Regions from separate parts of the Homo sapiens genome. Here region 2 is linked to region 1. A link means that fine-mapping ties the variant in region 1 to the expression of a gene that starts in the linked region. Tissue or cell type: subcutaneous fat. Region 1 holds a variant in brackets; the other region holds the start of a gene. All regions are shown on one strand. Distances are between the middles of the regions.

What was found. PIP is the estimated chance that this variant, and not a neighbour inherited with it, causes the effect.
Region 2: FUT8 starts here. The variant in region 1 is fine-mapped to the expression of FUT8 in subcutaneous fat (GTEx, PIP 0.96).

What each region holds. Positions count from the first base shown.
Region 1 is chr14:65,165,052-65,173,229 of GRCh38, forward strand. No RefSeq gene overlaps it. Among named protein-coding and RNA genes, the nearest start is that of LINC02324, 53 kb to the right of the region's middle. RefSeq lists enhancers at 4,196-4,295, 5,859-5,918, 5,939-6,108. The variant G/A (reference allele first, on the strand shown) is at 4,026.
Region 2 is chr14:65,409,027-65,417,204 of GRCh38, forward strand. It overlaps FUT8 (fucosyltransferase 8), which reads left to right and starts at 3,704. Exons shown (of 11, transcript NM_001371533.1): 1 at 3,704-4,188. It overlaps FUT8-AS1 (FUT8 antisense RNA 1), which reads right to left and starts at 3,591. Exons shown (of 1, transcript NR_024334.1): 1 at 1,566-3,591. RefSeq lists enhancers at 2,883-3,202, 4,445-5,009 and silencers at 3,743-3,902, 4,203-4,322, 4,333-4,522.

The sequences.
Region 1 (8,178 bases):
AATCATGGCTGTCATTCTTACTTAAGTGCTTGAAGACTAGTTTTTAAGAAATTCCAGCCAGGTGCGGTGGCTCATGCCTGTAATCCCAGCACTTTGGGAGGCCGAGGCGGGCGGATCATGAGGTCAGGAGATCGAGACCAGCCTGGCTAACATGGTGAAACCGGGTCTCTACTAAAAATACAGAAAAATTAGCTGGGCGTGGTGGCAGATGCCTGTAGTCCCAGCTACTCGGGAGGCTGAGGCAGGAGCCTCAGGCGTGAACCCAGGAGGCGGAGCTTGCAGTGAGCTGAGATTGCACCACTGTACTCCAGCCTGGGCGACAGAGCGAGACTCTGTCTCAAAAAAAAAAAAAAAGAAATTCCTTCTTGAAATCCTGTTTATGCTATTAATTTATTTAGTGGCCAGGTGCAGTGGCGGCGGCTCATGCCTGTAATCCCAGCACTTTGGGAGGCCGAGGTGGGTGGATCACCTGAGGTCAGGAGTTCAAGGCCAGCCTGGCCAACATGGTGAAACCCCATCTCTACAAAAATACAAAAATTAGCTGGGCATGATGGCAGGTGCCTGTAATCTCAGCTACTTGGGAGGCTGAGGCAGGAGAATCACTTGAAGCCGGGAGGTGGAGGTTGCAGTGAGCTGAGATCGCACCATTGCATTCCAGCCTAGGTGGCAGAGCAAGACTCCATCTCAAAAAAAAAAAAAAAATTGTTACTAACTCATTTTTCTTAAAGAGCTGACAGTTAACTTCAGCCAAGTGCTACCCAGGGCTCATGATCTGAATCTGAGTGCTCAAAATCAAGTAGGTTTATGGTCCTGAGCATGTTAAAGCCAGCATGTTTAATAGGAGTTTAATAGGAGAGGAGTAGTAGAGATTCTGGTTCTGTTTGAGGCAGGAAGTTCACATGTAGGGCTGATATTGTCAGATTTTCTGATTTTCCAAAAGAAGCATGAAGTCCAGATTTTTTATGTGAAATATCTCACTTGATAAATCTTAACTAATTTATATTGTGTAAAAAAAGACCACAGGGACCAGATAAAACATGTTTGTAGGACACATTGCTCTGTGGCTACTAGTTAGTAACCCCTGAAAAAGCCTTAAGGTAGGATGAGGCAGGGCAGGGCAGCGTAGTTGTGGCACATGGTTTGTGTTCCCAGGGGCAACAAGAGTAATTCCATTTCAGTTTGGAGATCCTTGTCTAAAGCCAGTACATTTTGCTCAATTGATCATTATTTTTCTTTGGCTGAGTTAAGTAGCATTCTTCGCTCTTTCGCTAAAGGATCAATTCCTTGTCTCAGGAGCATTTGAAGCTTCTGGATGAGGATTAGAATGATTGAAATCTATCTGTGACCCTGTGGAGTGACTCCAGGCAAGTCTCAGATGCCTCTAACCCTCTCCATCCAAAATGCCCAATGCAGCTAGGTTTCTTTTAAGATCAGCAATGATTATTGTTTTTCTCTCTATGCAGAAACTTGCTTCAAGAAGGAGTCTCTACCTTTTAAGTGCCAGGCTAGGAGCCTCTTTATTGGACCACATTAGATCTTCCCTACAGCCCAATTTTGAATTATTATTTTTATTGCTTTCTTATTCTTTAACACTCAAAAATCTTTGGAAACATAAAAGCCTGTGATGTAGTTCATGTTGTGAGTTAAGGGAGGTACAAGAAGTGTGTCATTTCAGGTCCTCTGAGAAACACATGCCAAGATGGAATTAGGCAGAGCATAAATGCACGGGGGAGAATGTATGTGAAGGATATAGGGTGTGGGAGCAGGAGTGGTGAGGACAGCCCTCAGGCAGCAGTGCAGGCCTGGCACTTGCTGAAGGAGAGTGGAAAGGAAAGAGAGTTGGGTAGGAAGAATCTAGACTACAGCATAGCTCCAAGAAAGCCACAGCCAGGCTTATGGGAAGCCCAAGAACAGAGGAGTTGCCACTGGACAGGACTGGCCTGGCTGTAGTACATCTGTTGTGCCCAGGGAGGGGGAGGCCTCAGTGTGAAGGCTGCAGGGAGCCCAAAGGATCCATAGTGTAAGGCTGTCATCCTGCTACTCCTGGTAGCAGGTTCTCTCAAAGGGAGATCAAAGTGAGGTAGGAGGTGAGACTTTACTTTGAAGGCAGGGTTCAGATACTGGACCAAATTGGGGACTAACTAAAACAAGTCCAGGGCAGAAGCACCACCCCATAAGACACGCCCATCACTGTGCCCTGTCAGTTTACCATTACCATGGCAACACCCAGAAGTTCCCACCCCTTTCTGTGGCAATGACTTGACAACCTAGAAGTTACCACCTCTTTTCTAGAAATTTCTGCATAAACCACCCCTTAATTTGCATACAATTCAGAGCAGGCATAAAAATGAGTGCAGAACTTCCTCTGAGCTGTTACTCTGGGCCCACTGCCTATAGGGTAGCCCTGTTCTGCAAGGAGCAGTACCTCTGCTGCTCCTGTGCACTGGGCGCTTTCATCAAAGGCTGTTCAACACCATTGGCTTGCCCTTGAATTTTCTCCTCGGCAAAGCCAAGAACCTTCCTGGGCTAAGCCCCAATTTGGAGGTTCATCTGTCCTGCATCAAAAGGTGCTTTCTTGTGACCACCACAATCAGCAGGAAGGTTTTCGTGATTTCATAAATATGTGGTTATTTTTACTTATTTTTATACAATAAGAGGGAGGAGATTGTGGGGGTTCAAAGTTAGTCCTGGCTTTGTGGCTCCATCACTGTGCTGGCTGTGACCTTAGGCAAGGAGCTAAATTTCCTTATCCCTTTTGTTTATTTACTCGTTTATTTTTGTTTGTTTATTCGTTTGTTTTTTTAAGAGTCTTGCTTTGTCACCCAGGCTGGAGTGCGGTGGTGTGATCTCGACTCACTGGAACTTCTGCCTCCCAGGTTCAAGTGATTCTTGTGCCTCAGCCTCCCGAGTAGCTGGGATTACAGGCACCCATCACCACTCTTGTCTGTTAATTGAAAACAGTGAAAGTATCTCTCCCATGGAATTACTTTGAGAGTTTTGATAGAAGGTATGCAAAGTGCTTAGCACAGTGCCAGGTACCTAGCAAGTATTTTTACTTTGGAATATATTATAAGATGAGATCTAGGCTAACTATCCACTGATGATTACTTTGATTTTAGAGGGTCTTGTTTTTTGAAATGATATTGTTAAGGTGAGTCTGGTCAGTAGGCAAACTGAAATGCATGTATGGACAATGACCCCCAGCTCAGCCTGAGTCCCCCAGCAGCACTCTCCCACCAACCCTGTGAGGTAGGTTTTATTATGTTTAGTTTACAGATGAGCAAACTGAGGCCCAGAAAGATCTTGGTGATTTTGTGGAGCAAGTCATTCAGGAATGACCAGAGTATTGCATTGCATCCCCTTAGTTAATGATGGGCAGGTGACCCAGTAAGAACCAAGGAGATGTGGTGAGACTGCCCAGGGTAGCTGCGAAGATGTTGAGCTCTTTTACTAATGGTCTTGGACCAGGGAGAATGTGAGGCTGGTGATGCTGAAGCTGTCTTACCTGCACAAAGGTAAGCCTCTCTGAGAATGTGGCAGAGGCAGAAATATTTGGCCTTGAATGAGTGAATCTAATAGCCATCCAAACCCTTTCTCCTATAACTGCTCTTTTTTATTTTTTAATTTATTTTTGTTTTATTTTATTTTTAAAAAATGTTTGTGGGTATATAGTAGGTGTATATATTTATGGGGTAGATAAGATGTTTTGATACAGGCATGCAATGTGAAGTGAGCACATCATGGAGCTCTAACTACACCTGAGGAGATTGCTAGTTGTTTCAAAATACCCCTCTTCTTCATCATGTGACTAACAGAACTCCTCAAGTTTTAGCTGGGCACATGGCTACCCAAGTACTACATTTCCCAGCCACCCTTACAGCTGGTTGTGATCATGTGGTTATGTTCTGACCAATAGCATATGGGCAGAAGAGAAGTGATGAATGCAACTTATGCATTGCATCCTTAAAAGAAAGCTTCTTGCCCTTCTCTTATACCTTCTCCCTTCTTGGCTAGGATATGACAAC[G/A]GAGTGACTGGTCAGACTGCAAGGAAGAGGCAGAACCCTTTCACAATCTTGGGTACGGTTTGTTCTTTGACTGTTATATGAGGCAAAACCAAACCAAACAAAAAACACTGCTTCTACTGCAGGGACCAAAAAAGCTTAAAAACGTACTTTCCCAGCCTCCTCTGTGGCTAAAGTGGCCTCATGGCACTGATGTATTCAATCAACTGGAAGCAGAGGTCAGCTGGGAACTTTGGGGATTGATTTACTTTTCTGGATAAAAAAAAAAAAAATCGGAAGTTAGCTAGCCTCTTCTTTCTGCCTTGAATGTCTAGAGCTGGACCTGTCCTCCTGTGACCCTGAAGACAGTAGAGCTGAAATGAAGAAGGAGGCTGGGTTCTTGATGACATTACTGAGCTGCTGCATAGTAACGTCATCTATGCCTATTCTGGGCTGCTTGTTGAATGAGAAAAATAAACCTCTCTCTGGACTTCTTATGTGAGAAAAACAAACCACACTTTGTTGAAGCCTCTGTTAGCTGAGTTTCATGTTATTGCAGCCCAAATGCCCAAATATCAGTGAAACTTAGTGGTGTGTCAGACAGCCCAGATGTTGATGATGTCATCTGGCCTTCTGAATACAACTGTGCCTGAGACTAAACCCAAGCCCCTGGACTTTTCAGCTATTAGAGAAAGAGTAAGTTCTCTTTCTGCTTAAGCAGTTTAGGCTGGATTTTCTGTGGCCTGGATGGAAAGACCCCTGATACAACTATGAACCAATAGCAACTAGATACATTCTGTTTTCACCTCCTCTTAGTCTCTCCCCTGATTTTACGGTTAAAAAAAAAAAAAAAAAAAGTAAAATTAGAGCAAGGAAAGAAAGAAGAAAGGAATAAAGAAGGAAGGATAAGATAAGAAACAATAGAAGACTTGAACTAAATTAAAAGAGGTTAGAGGCCAGGCACGGTGGCTCATGTCTGTAATCCCAGCACTTTGGGAGGTCGAGGCAGGTGAATCACGAGGTCGGGAGATCGAGACCATCCTGGCTAACACGGTGAAACCCCGTCTCTACTAAAAAAAAAAAAACAACACACAAAGAAATTAGCCGGGCATGGTGGTGGGCGCCTGTAGTCCCAGCTGCTCGGGAGGCTGAGGCAGGAGAATGGCATGAACCTGGGAGGTGGAGCTTGCAATGGGCCGAGATCACACCACTGCACTCCAGCCTGGGCAACAGAGCGAGACTCTGTCTCAAAAAAAAAACAACAACAACAACAACAAAAAAAAAAACAAAAGGTTAGAAGCTTTTACAGTTCCTTTGTTTGGAAACCTGGGTCCTAGTGTCCCTTGCGCAGGATGCTCGTTTCTGACTTTTGTGGCCTGCCCTTGACACCATTCGAGCATATGGATTTCAGTGGGTAGTGTGACTCAGCTTCCCATTCCCAAAACTCCAGAGCCACATTGCTGGGTCCCTTCACTCTGCTTTACTCTCCTCCCAAGACAGACGTAGCATGGGCCACGTGAATTCATCCATGTCCTGAACTAATCTGGTTGTTCTACCAGGTTACTCTTAAGTTCATGGGCCATCACCCCCTTGTACTTACTGAGCTCCAGGGTTTTCATCTCTTCTGAGAATCGACCGTTTAGTCCAATCTTAGTACAGACCAGCATTAATAGGCAATTACCACAGGGAGATAATACAGAGGGAAAAATGGCTAAAAATATACAGTGAATCACAGAAAATTACATCTCTTAAAACCTACAGTGTATTCCTATTGCCATAGCAACCCTTGGCTAGTAAAGACAGAGATGATTTATCACAGGCTTTCCCCGGAGCTCGGTTCTGCCGGAAGCACCTCCAGCCTGTGGTGAGTTCCAGCGAGGAGGGCAATGCAGACATCATACAACCGGGTTTTCTCTCCTCCATCCCTTCCAGTGGCATTTCTGCGGCAAGAAGACTTGAGTTCCTTCTATATAACCCAGGTCATCTCCCGGCCCCTTTTCTGAGATGAAAGTGGCTGTCTCTAACCTCTGACAACGCGGCGTCCTGCCGACACGATGTGAATGCCAGCGGCAGCAGTGCGCTGACTTCCAGGAGGGGGCAGTGGGGCTGGGGGACATGAGGAGGCTGTAGGTGCCAGACCGTCTGAACAAATGAGGAGAGGAGAGGAGTTCTTTCTCCTCCTGTTCCTTTTCCTCCCTACTTCTCTCTCACCTTCCCACTTCCCTGACTCTCCTCTCTACCCTGCTACTTCCTCAGTAGGTCTACTGTGAAATGGACTGGACATACATCAGGACCGGGAGAAGAGAGAGGAAGTCATGTCCTCACTTAGGAAATGAGTCTGGTCTTTAGGAAGATTATAAAATGTATGTAAATAAACATCTTGTTATTTCGTTGGAACTCTAAAATTCACTGGCATAGATGCTGTGCTTTCTCATAATGTTAAAAATTAGATTCTTGAATGCTGTTTAAACATTCATAATTTGGAGAAATAGCCTGGACCAGAGTTTTGGAGAATCCACCTTCAAAAATAACCCTAGCTGGGGGGCAGTAACATGCACCTGTAGTCCCAGCTAGTCAGGAGGCTGAGGTGGGAGGATTGCTTGAACCCAAGAGTTTGAGGCTGCAGTGAGCCATGATCACCTCTGTAAATAGCCACTCTGCACTCCAGCCTGTGCTATGTAGTAAAAGATACCCTGTTTCAATAAAAAAAAAAAAAAAAAGAAGAAGAAGAAGAAGAAGCTGGAAGGAGCTCCCATTCAAATCTTGGACAATCTGAACTTTTAAAAAATAATAATAATAATCAACTGGGCACGGTGGCTCATGCCTGTAATCCCAGCATTTTGGGAGGCCAAGGCGGGTGGATCACCTGAGGTCAGGAGTTCGAGACCAGCCTGGCCAACACGGTGAAACTCCATCTCTACTAAAAATACAAAAATTAGCTGGGCATGGTGGTGAGCACCTGTTTTCCCAGCTACTCGGGAGGCTGAGGCGGGAGAATTGCTTGAACCCAGGAAGCGGAGGCTGCAGTGAGCCGAGATCACACCACTGCACTCCAGTCTGGATGACAAAAGGGAGACTTCATCTAAAATAATAATAATAATAAATTGGATAAAATGTGAAAATCTAAGTCCATATTAATATAAGCAAATAAATAAATGGAGAAAAAGAAAAAGGCTTTCCTTAGAGTAAAATTACAACTAATATAGGTATAAGAAATGATAAAATTAGAAAATGACCATTTGGTAAACCTTAGAGTCATTAATGATTCAGGCAAGAATTATCAAGGGATGTTAAAACTAGTGGGTAAAAATTTGATGAGAAACAGTGTATTTACACAATCTCAAAGTAGATCCTCATAAAACACCTATTGATTTCAAAGAGAAAAATAATAACTTTACAGTAGAGAGGACTGATAATCCCCACCTGAATCAAATGATCAAAGTTAACATCGCAAGGGACAAATGGGACAGATTGATAGCATATATCTCCTGATGTATGTGTGCTGAAGGACATGATATCACCTCTGTGGTTTTCCTGCCAAAAAGGTACAACCGGAATCTAATTGTGAGGAAACATCAGACTAATTCAAAAGGAGGGACAGTCGATTAAATAAATGGCTTACATTCTTCAAAAATGTCAGTGTCATGAAAGACAAAGCTGAAGAACTATTCTAATTGAAGAAACCTAAAAAGACATGATATTGCTGGCCGGGCGCGGTGGCTCACGCCTGTAATCCCAGCACTTTGGGAGGCCGAGGTGGGCAGATTAAGAGGTCAGGAGATCGAGACATCCTGGCTAACACAGTGAAACCCCGTCTCTACTAAAAATACAAAAAAAAAAAAAAAAATTAGCGGGGCGTGGTGGCGGGCGCCTGTAGTCCCAGATACTCGGGAGACTGAGGCAGGAGAATGGCATGAACCCGGGAGGCAGAGCTTGAAGTGAGCCGAGATCGCGCCACTGCACTCCAGCCTGGGCGACAGAGTGAGACTCCGTCTCAAAAAAATAAAAAAAGGCCGGGCGCGGTGGCTCACACCTGTAATCCCAGCACTTTGGGAGGCCGAGGCGGGTGGCTTACGAGGTCAGGAGATCGAGACCATCCTGGCTAACACGGTGAAACCCCGTCTCTACTAAAAAAATACAAAAAATTAGCCGGGCTTAGTGGCGGGCGCCTGTAGTC
Region 2 (8,178 bases), 240 kb after region 1:
TTGGCTAGATTTATAGTTTTAGAACTGACGAACAACTAAAACTTACCTAGTCCAACCCTTTTATTTTACAAATGAGAAAACTGAGGCCCAGATGGGTAAAATGATTATCTCAAGGTCACCCCTTCTTGCTCTTGGCAATAACAATGCTGCCCTTTGGATGACTTCCTGGAAAATCGGATCCTGTAAGTGAAATGTAGCTAGAGCAACAATTATAAAACAACGAGAACAATTAACAATTATTCAGAATGCTTCCATGGCTGACAGTCAGTTGGTACACGTTGGTAGAGATAGAAAAATTTCTAAACTATTTGGTAAGTAGCTTATGCTAAGCCTTCTGAGTGCCTCAACCCCTTGCTGGAACTCCACAGATCTCCCCACCGTAATAACAGGATCCACCTCAAAGGTTTGATTTGAGAATTAAATGGTGGAGGTAAAGAGTTTTGCATGAGGCCTGGTGCTCAGCACTATTACACTTTGGCTATTATTTTTATTACAGTCATAATAAAATGGTAGTAAATTTCAAACCAGTTTCTACATGAATGTTCACAACTTAGGAAATGTGATAGCATTCACGTTCATTAACTTTGATCTAGCTAATCTCTCAATAAAATGGCCACTCATGTACTCACTTTAACTTTCATTTTGATCTTTTCCATAGTCTAAGGGTTGACTCCTTCTTGCCCCGGGACACCCGAGTCCCCATAGCTCTAGCTGATGGTTAAGAATTTGACCGAGGCTATATACAAGAAAACAATGCACTGACAAGGCCCTGTTACTTGTTGTATAACAGATCATAACGATTGTTCTGTCTAATCTTTTGTTGAACAGAACTTGTCTTTAACTTTTGGGATAAGCAAAGATGGGTCCAAAACCTAGTTTGGTGAGGGAGGGGTGGAGTAAGAGGTGGAGTACCTGTACTTACTTAAGCAACTATTACAAACTGGCAGTGATGAGCAGCAGAGGCAAGCAGTTGGGAGAAGAGAATGAGAGAGCGCAGCAACAGGGTGGGACCTGCAGCTTGTGGAAAAATGCTTTTGACACAGATACTTTCTGATGGCCAGTGATGTTTAGAACCTTTTGGGGGATTCCTTCTCTCTCAGAATTTAACCTGGCAAGAGAACGACTGAGTTCTAGGAATTTTCTTGTCTGGAGAGAGTAAAATAAATGTATTTTTTAAAAGCTGGGACTGTTATCCACACTGAGAAGAGGCAGGGTATAAAATTCCCTTTCATAAGTGAATTTCCTGGAAATTCATGATTGGCTTGGAACTTAATGTGTAAAGACTTGTTCTCAAATATCAGTTGTTTGACAGAGACCTCCAGTTTTGGGATGGCAGCTAAATCCTGAGCCTGCCTTGGAAAGGGTTTTGATAATAATGTTCCATCACAGGTGGAGAAGCACATTGATTCAACAAAGCAGACTTCAAAACCACTGAAGAATTAGTTTCTGAGTGTATTCAAGAGATACCAAAGTTATTTGTTATTTTAACGTATATTATACTGTTCTATACAAATGCACCAAATCCTGGGCAAAACATTCCTAGGACAGGTTTTTTTTTTTTTTTTTTTCAGTTGGAAGGAGGTAGGGAAAATAAGTGCTTTAATTCCTAGGATTTTGGAAGTAAAAATGGAACACCAGACAAAAATGGAATTTTTAGGCAAATGTAAAGCTTTGTACTTGGGTATCTCAAAGTATTATACAGTGTAAACTATCATGATTATTAACCAACTAGAAGTAGTTCTTTTTTTTAAATTTTATTTTTAATTTTAGACATGAGGGTCTTGCTATGTTGCCCAGGCTGAAGTGGCTACTGACAGGCACGATGTGGCACTGCAGCCTGGAACTCTTGGGCTTAAGTGATCCTTCCTGCTTCTTCTATCTTAAAAAAAAAAAGTTACGCTTGCTTGTTAAAATATTTTTAAAATGCTGTGTTTAAACTAAGAAGTAAATATCCACCCCACCTCTGACTTCTAAAAATTATCTAAAGTATGACTGGTAAGATTTTTACCTTTAATCCCACATAAGTCTAAAATTTGTGTTCATTTCCAACAACCAAAGTGTGTCACTTTTATACCAGAATTTTGTCCTGCTTATACGTTTAGTACAGAAATCTCATGGGAGAGAGCATCCATGCATTTACAAATTGTTATTGAATTATTTTATTGAATGATGACACCCAAACTGAGCTAGAACATAATTCTGGCTCTGCTAGTACATCTTCTGTGTGATCTTGGACAAGTCACTCTACTTTCCTTTCAATTTTCTTTTCTCACAGGGAGATAATCATAAAAACGACTGTAAAGTACAGCACTTCATAGAGTGCTTTTTGTTTAAAGAGCTGACAATAAATACGAGTCTCAAGGTCTAGGAAAGCCTCCCTCACAACCTGAGCTGCTTGAGGACAAGGGATTTTCTTTTGAATCAGCAGTACCTTATTTGTGTATCTGTGATAGAGTTCCTGGTACATAAGAAGGTCTCAATAAATATGTGAATTTATGAATATTAGGCAGATTGCAACCTTGACAGGCCACTGCCTCTTAAATCTCCTTTCTGTGATCTTTTAATATTTAACATCTAAAAGGCCGCCGCTACTTGCTTTGGGATAAGTATCCCCGGTATGTACTTTAAAATGCCCAAGCCTAGAGAAATGATTCTTGTCTTAAGGGCACCATTTCGCTCTCCCACCGTAAAGCGCCCCAGGCTTGGGATCTGGGTCCCAAGGCTACAGGGAAGAGTTTGGAACGGGAAGCTCATCTTCCGGCCCTCTGATTGGCCGGCTCGCACTCCACTCACGCGGCGCGCAGCTCTGATTGGCCTCGGCGGCACCCCTCGTCCCGCGACTACTTTGTGTGCTGGGGCGGCGCGCTCCGGTCCTCCCGCTCAGCTGGCGGTCTGGGCTGCTCTGGGGCAGCCCTTCGGTCCACTGCTCTGCATCGCGGGCGCCGGGAATTTTCCGAGTCCGAGCGGGTAGGACGCATCCTAGGGCAAAGCCTCTCCCCTCTCCCCGTGCTGTTCTCTTTCCCGTACTAAATAAACTTCCGCCTCAGAGGGGCTGTCGCAGCCGCGGGTCGGGAGAGGCCGGGCATCGAACTCAGGCCCTCGTGGGGGGGGTCTTTCTCTTCGAGTGAATGTGGAAACAGCTCTTACAAGATAAAGTAGGGCTTCGCTGAGTCTCCTGGGGGAGCGATGCCATTGTAGGATCGCGCTGGAAGCAGCAGTCAAGCGGCCAAATGCGGGCTGCAGGGGCTGAGCAGCAGCAGCGCGCACCCCTAAAAGTAGCAAGGAGCCAGCTTCAAAACCTCTAGTGCGGGTGCCCCCTAGGGCCGCCGACTGAGCTGGCACGGGCCGGTCCATTCCCGGCGCTGTAGGGAGCACAGCATTCTCTGGAGGCGAGTCTCCTCCCGGGATCCAGGATCCGCTCGCGCCCCGCTCAGCCTCCGGCCTTCAGGCGGTAGAGGGCGGCCTACGCCTGTGTGCGAGCCGGAGCCGGCGTGCGCAGCCGCTGCCCTGCTGGAACTGTGCCGTCCCGCTGTGGCCCGCGGCTCTGCTAGGCGGTGGATGCTGCTGCTACGCTCTCCACCGGCGCAGCGAGGAAGGGGGCGGGGAGAATCCCTGGCACATGCCAGGGTCGCCGTAGGTGGCAGCGGCCGGCGCATGCGCGCCCTCTCCCAGAAGCCAGGAACGCCGAGGGGCGCGCTCCCCCATTCGCGCGCGCACGCCGGCGCTGGCCGAGGCTTCCCCGCCTGCGCTCGTTGTCAGAGCCGCTCCGGCGCGTGCGCGCGTTATCTCCGGCCGACCCGAGCAGCCGGTTCCCTCCTCTCCAGGCCCCCTCCCCATCCCACCCCCGCCGCCTGGCCCCAGCCGACCCGTCCCTTCGTCTCCCCGCGGAATGGGGCCGGCACTGCTCAGGGTCGCGCGCCCTGGACCCAGCTCGCTCTCGGTCTCGCGCTGTCAGCGACTGCCCGGCTCGCGCCGCCTCGCGCTCTGCCTCAGTCAGTGGCGCCGAAGGCTCCGTTAAGCGGCGGCGGCGGTTCCTGTTTCCGTTTCTTCCTCTCCGTTCGGTCGGGAGTAGCATCCTCCACTCAGCCACCCTTCCCACTCCCCCATCGTGGGGCAGCTGCGGCTGAGGGCTGTGGCTTTGGCAGCTGCGACGGGGAGCGGCGGAGACCGCCTCTGCTCCCGCCTGGGGTAAGGGGGCGTTTTGGGAGCCGGGCCCCGCGCGCCTCGGGGTCTTGGGCTGGGCTGCGCGCGGGATCTGAGGAGGCTCCGCGGCTGTCCCTGCTCGTTCACCCGGGCCTGTTGCTGCAACTGCTGCCGGTTAACCAGCGGCTCTCGGAAAAGTGGGGAGGGAGCCCCCGGGACGCTCTGGCGGATGCCTTGGCGCAGCCCCGGGGGCGCGGGCAGAGGGTGAGGGGCGCCCGCCTCTCCAGCCGGGACGCGGAGCTGCGCCGCTGCTGCCCTCGGCGTCGCGCATCCTTGCCTAGGGCAGGGGCCAAAGCCTAGGGAAGGAGAAGGGTTGGGGGCGGGGGTGGGAGGTGTCCGTCGTTTCCCCTCCACACCTACCTTCCCTTCGTCAGCAGCTCGGTCCCTGGAGTCGCGGTTTGTGGGGAGGAAGATGCCCGTGCGTTATGGGCTCTTTCTGAGTGCTGCTCGGGCTAGAAAGCAGGGAGTGGACCCTCACAAAGATCCGCGAGGGACTGATGCAGGGCAGTTAAAGGCTTGAGTGCAGCTGTACTCCCTTTTGATGTGCAAATGACGAGCTGGCGGCTTTTGAGTATCAACTTATTTGGGAAGGTTAAATGAGTCCATATTTATCAGTTCTAGGAGGTTTGTCCTGCAGGATTGAGTGGGTTGTCGGGTGCAGCACCTGTTCTTTCTTCACAGTGGGGATTGCAATCTTCAGAGACGCAGTGTATTTCTTAAGTGGCAGTGTCATGCTTAGGGTTTGTCCCGGATGAGCTTTTATTTTAGCATTTTGCCATATAATATATAGATTGAGGCCTTGGTTAAAGGCACGGACAGGTGGTGTTTTTTTCCTTCCTATGTTTTAATTATTCACAGTTTATTTAAACCCACTCAGGAAGGTGGACCCAGAAAAGCCAAATTCTGTAGTACATAACCCCAAATTTCAAGGTTTTGCGGAACAAATTCAACACAAGTTTTGTGTCAGTTTAGAGTTAAACGCATCTCAAGTAACTGACTTAACTGGCTTGCCTCTATGAAAACTGTAGGCAGGTTTCATTATAGATTTTTTTTTTCTTGTTATTCCGGCGGTTAGGTGCATGTTTATTTTCTTGATTAAATTTACATTCTATGTTTTATGACTAATTCTTTAAATAGGTGCATCATATAGAAAGTATTTTAGGAGAGAAATTATTATTTAAGCACTACAGTATATCAGATATATGAGAAATAATGGAGTTGTAGTCTCTGCTCTTTAAAATAACTGTAAAAACATCTTAAAACCCTATGCCAAATAATAAGGCCCTGTACCTTGCTGTCCTTGTGAAATCTGGTATGTGTATAGAAAATCTTAATTACTTGATTTGTAAATACTACAGTAGTATTGAAAAGGTGGGAATTCAAGCATTTGTAATTGTGATTTCACAGGTTTAGTGTGTAAAAAATGCAGGGAGTTAGAGATGAATAGGCTATAAGACACGTACAAAGGTAGTTCCAAGACATGGATTTTCTTTTTGCTGCCTTATAAATTGAGAATTCTATTTGAATTCAAGAGCTGAACAGCTGGAATGAAACTTGCATAGATTGCAGAAACAGATGCAAAAATGTATCTTTGGTCAAGTTGTGAGTTAACTTGAAGAGTGTCTTGTGTAATAGGATAGTGATTCAAAATAATTTCCATAAAGTACGGCCTTATATAGGTTATATTTTGAGGATATTTTTGAATTTAAAAAGTCACCTGAAGTTGTTTTCCTACAAATCAGTTCTGTTTAAGATGTATGGAATCGAAAAAAACAAAACAAAACTAATTCTGATTACATCCTGCATTGTTTTGTTGCAAATTCTTACCAGTTATTTTTACGCAATTGGAGTGTCCTTAAAAGTGGTGAATCTTAAAATTTGCCAGTGGATTGGAAAAAACTGTTAACTTATTATTTTTAAAAATGCTGTTATATTAGTACATTGGTCTGGAGGGGGAGCTAGTGCCAAAGCAAAGTATAGCTTAATAGCTGTTTGAACTTTTAAAACACCCAAAACCAGATTTTTATGACCAAAAGAAACATAAATTTTTAATTAAAAGAGTAGGAAATTGATGTGGGCATATATATGTACATAGTTATTTGTGGAGTGAATATATTGTGTATTACAAATTAGTTTAAAAAAGTCTTTTCATGCGCTGCAATAATGGAAAGCTAAATGCTTAAAGATTTATTGGATTTCTCACTTAAAAATCTCTAAAATGTACCCCCAAACTTAGAGTATGTTATAGTATTTTCTTAACCTTCTTGTCCTGTTCATCAGAATCTAAGGCATGTATTCTTGACCCATTGTACATGTTGTGTGTTCTTAAATTTTGTTTTTATAATAGCTACAATCCTAAAATTTCAAAAACGAAGCTTCAAGTAGAATCTTATATGGGCGAAGGTATTAATTGTGTGGTAAGCTAGGTATTTATCAAAAGTAGATATAATTCCTTTTTTTTTTTTTTTTAAAGTAGAGATAATTCCAATAAAAAAATGGACCTTTTAGACATCTGGAGAACAATATCCCCAGGTCACTTAACCCTTATCTCCTGCAGTATAATGCAGTGCGTCCAGCTGATCTACCAAATTGAATGTGTGCCTTTGAATACGAAGCAGTTGTTTTGTGGCCTGTGGCATTTCATTTAGGTTTCTAAGCTGTAATAAATTAGTATGTTAATTTACTTCTTTCCATTCACATATTCTTTAAATCCAAGCCTAGAAACTGATAGTTATATGTATATTAAAATCATTGGAATATTGGTTTTTTTGCAGATAGTGTTTGGGCTGTTTATTATCCATAGCTCTTCATTATGTAAATAGAATCTCAATGCTGATAAAGTAAATAGATTCTTCCATTTCATTAATGGTTATTTTTGATTTATGATAAACTGCATTTAATAAATCTCTTGATTTAGTTAAATGGTGGATACATCATTTCATATTATAGCAAATTGATAAATATAAAAGAAAGTTTTACAATCATAAGAGTAAATATTTAAAAAAACTTGAATAAGTTACTTTACTAAACATAAAATTAAGATTTTTAAACAACTCTGAAACTAAAAGTATTACTATTATGGTACCTTTTTTTTTTTTTCCCCCAAAGAGATGTGATCTTGCTGTTTTGTCCAGGTTGGCCTTGAACTCCTGGGCTCAAGCAATCCTCCTACCTCAGTCTCTTGAGTAGCTGGGACTATAGGCATGTGCTACCACAGCCAGCTTTATTATAGTACTTTTGTACCCTGCATCAATGCTGCTTCTGTTGATACTTTTCAAAGGAGATATCAACTTCTGGTCTTCAACAGTAGTGTAGCATCCTCTTATTGATTCTCTGGCTCATATTTCACTACCGTATAGTATGGAGTTTCTTTCTTGGAGTTTGAATTGTTTTTACATTGCAGCTTGTTATAGTGAAACAATTAAACATATTTAAAAGTAAAAGATATTTACGACTGATTTTTAAAGAACCTGTAAAAAAATCTCCAACAGAAGAATATTATATGGGGATGTGTAGATTTAACATTTTATTTTCTTTAATTTTTTTTTTTTTTTTTTTGAGATTGGGGTTGGGGGTTGTCTCTCTATGTTGCCCAGGTTGGAGTGCAGTAGTGGCGTGATCACGGCTCACTGCAGCCTTGAACTCCCTGGTTCAAGCCATTCTCCCGCCTTAGCCTCTGGAGTATCTGGGATTATGGGTGCATGCCACCATGCGTGGCTAATTATTTTTTAATATTTGTAGAGATGAGACCTTGGTATGTTGCCCAGGTTTGTCTTGAACTCCTGGGGTCAAGTGGTCCTCACACCTTGGCCTCCTAAAATGCTGGGATTACAGGCGTGAGTCACTGTACCCGGCTCCTTTATTTTATTAAAAAGATTTTTGTTTGTTTGTTTGTTTCTAAGTTTAAAAGAGACAGGGTCTTGCCATGTTGCCCAGGCTGGTCTTGAACTCCTGACCTCAAGTGATCATCCCACC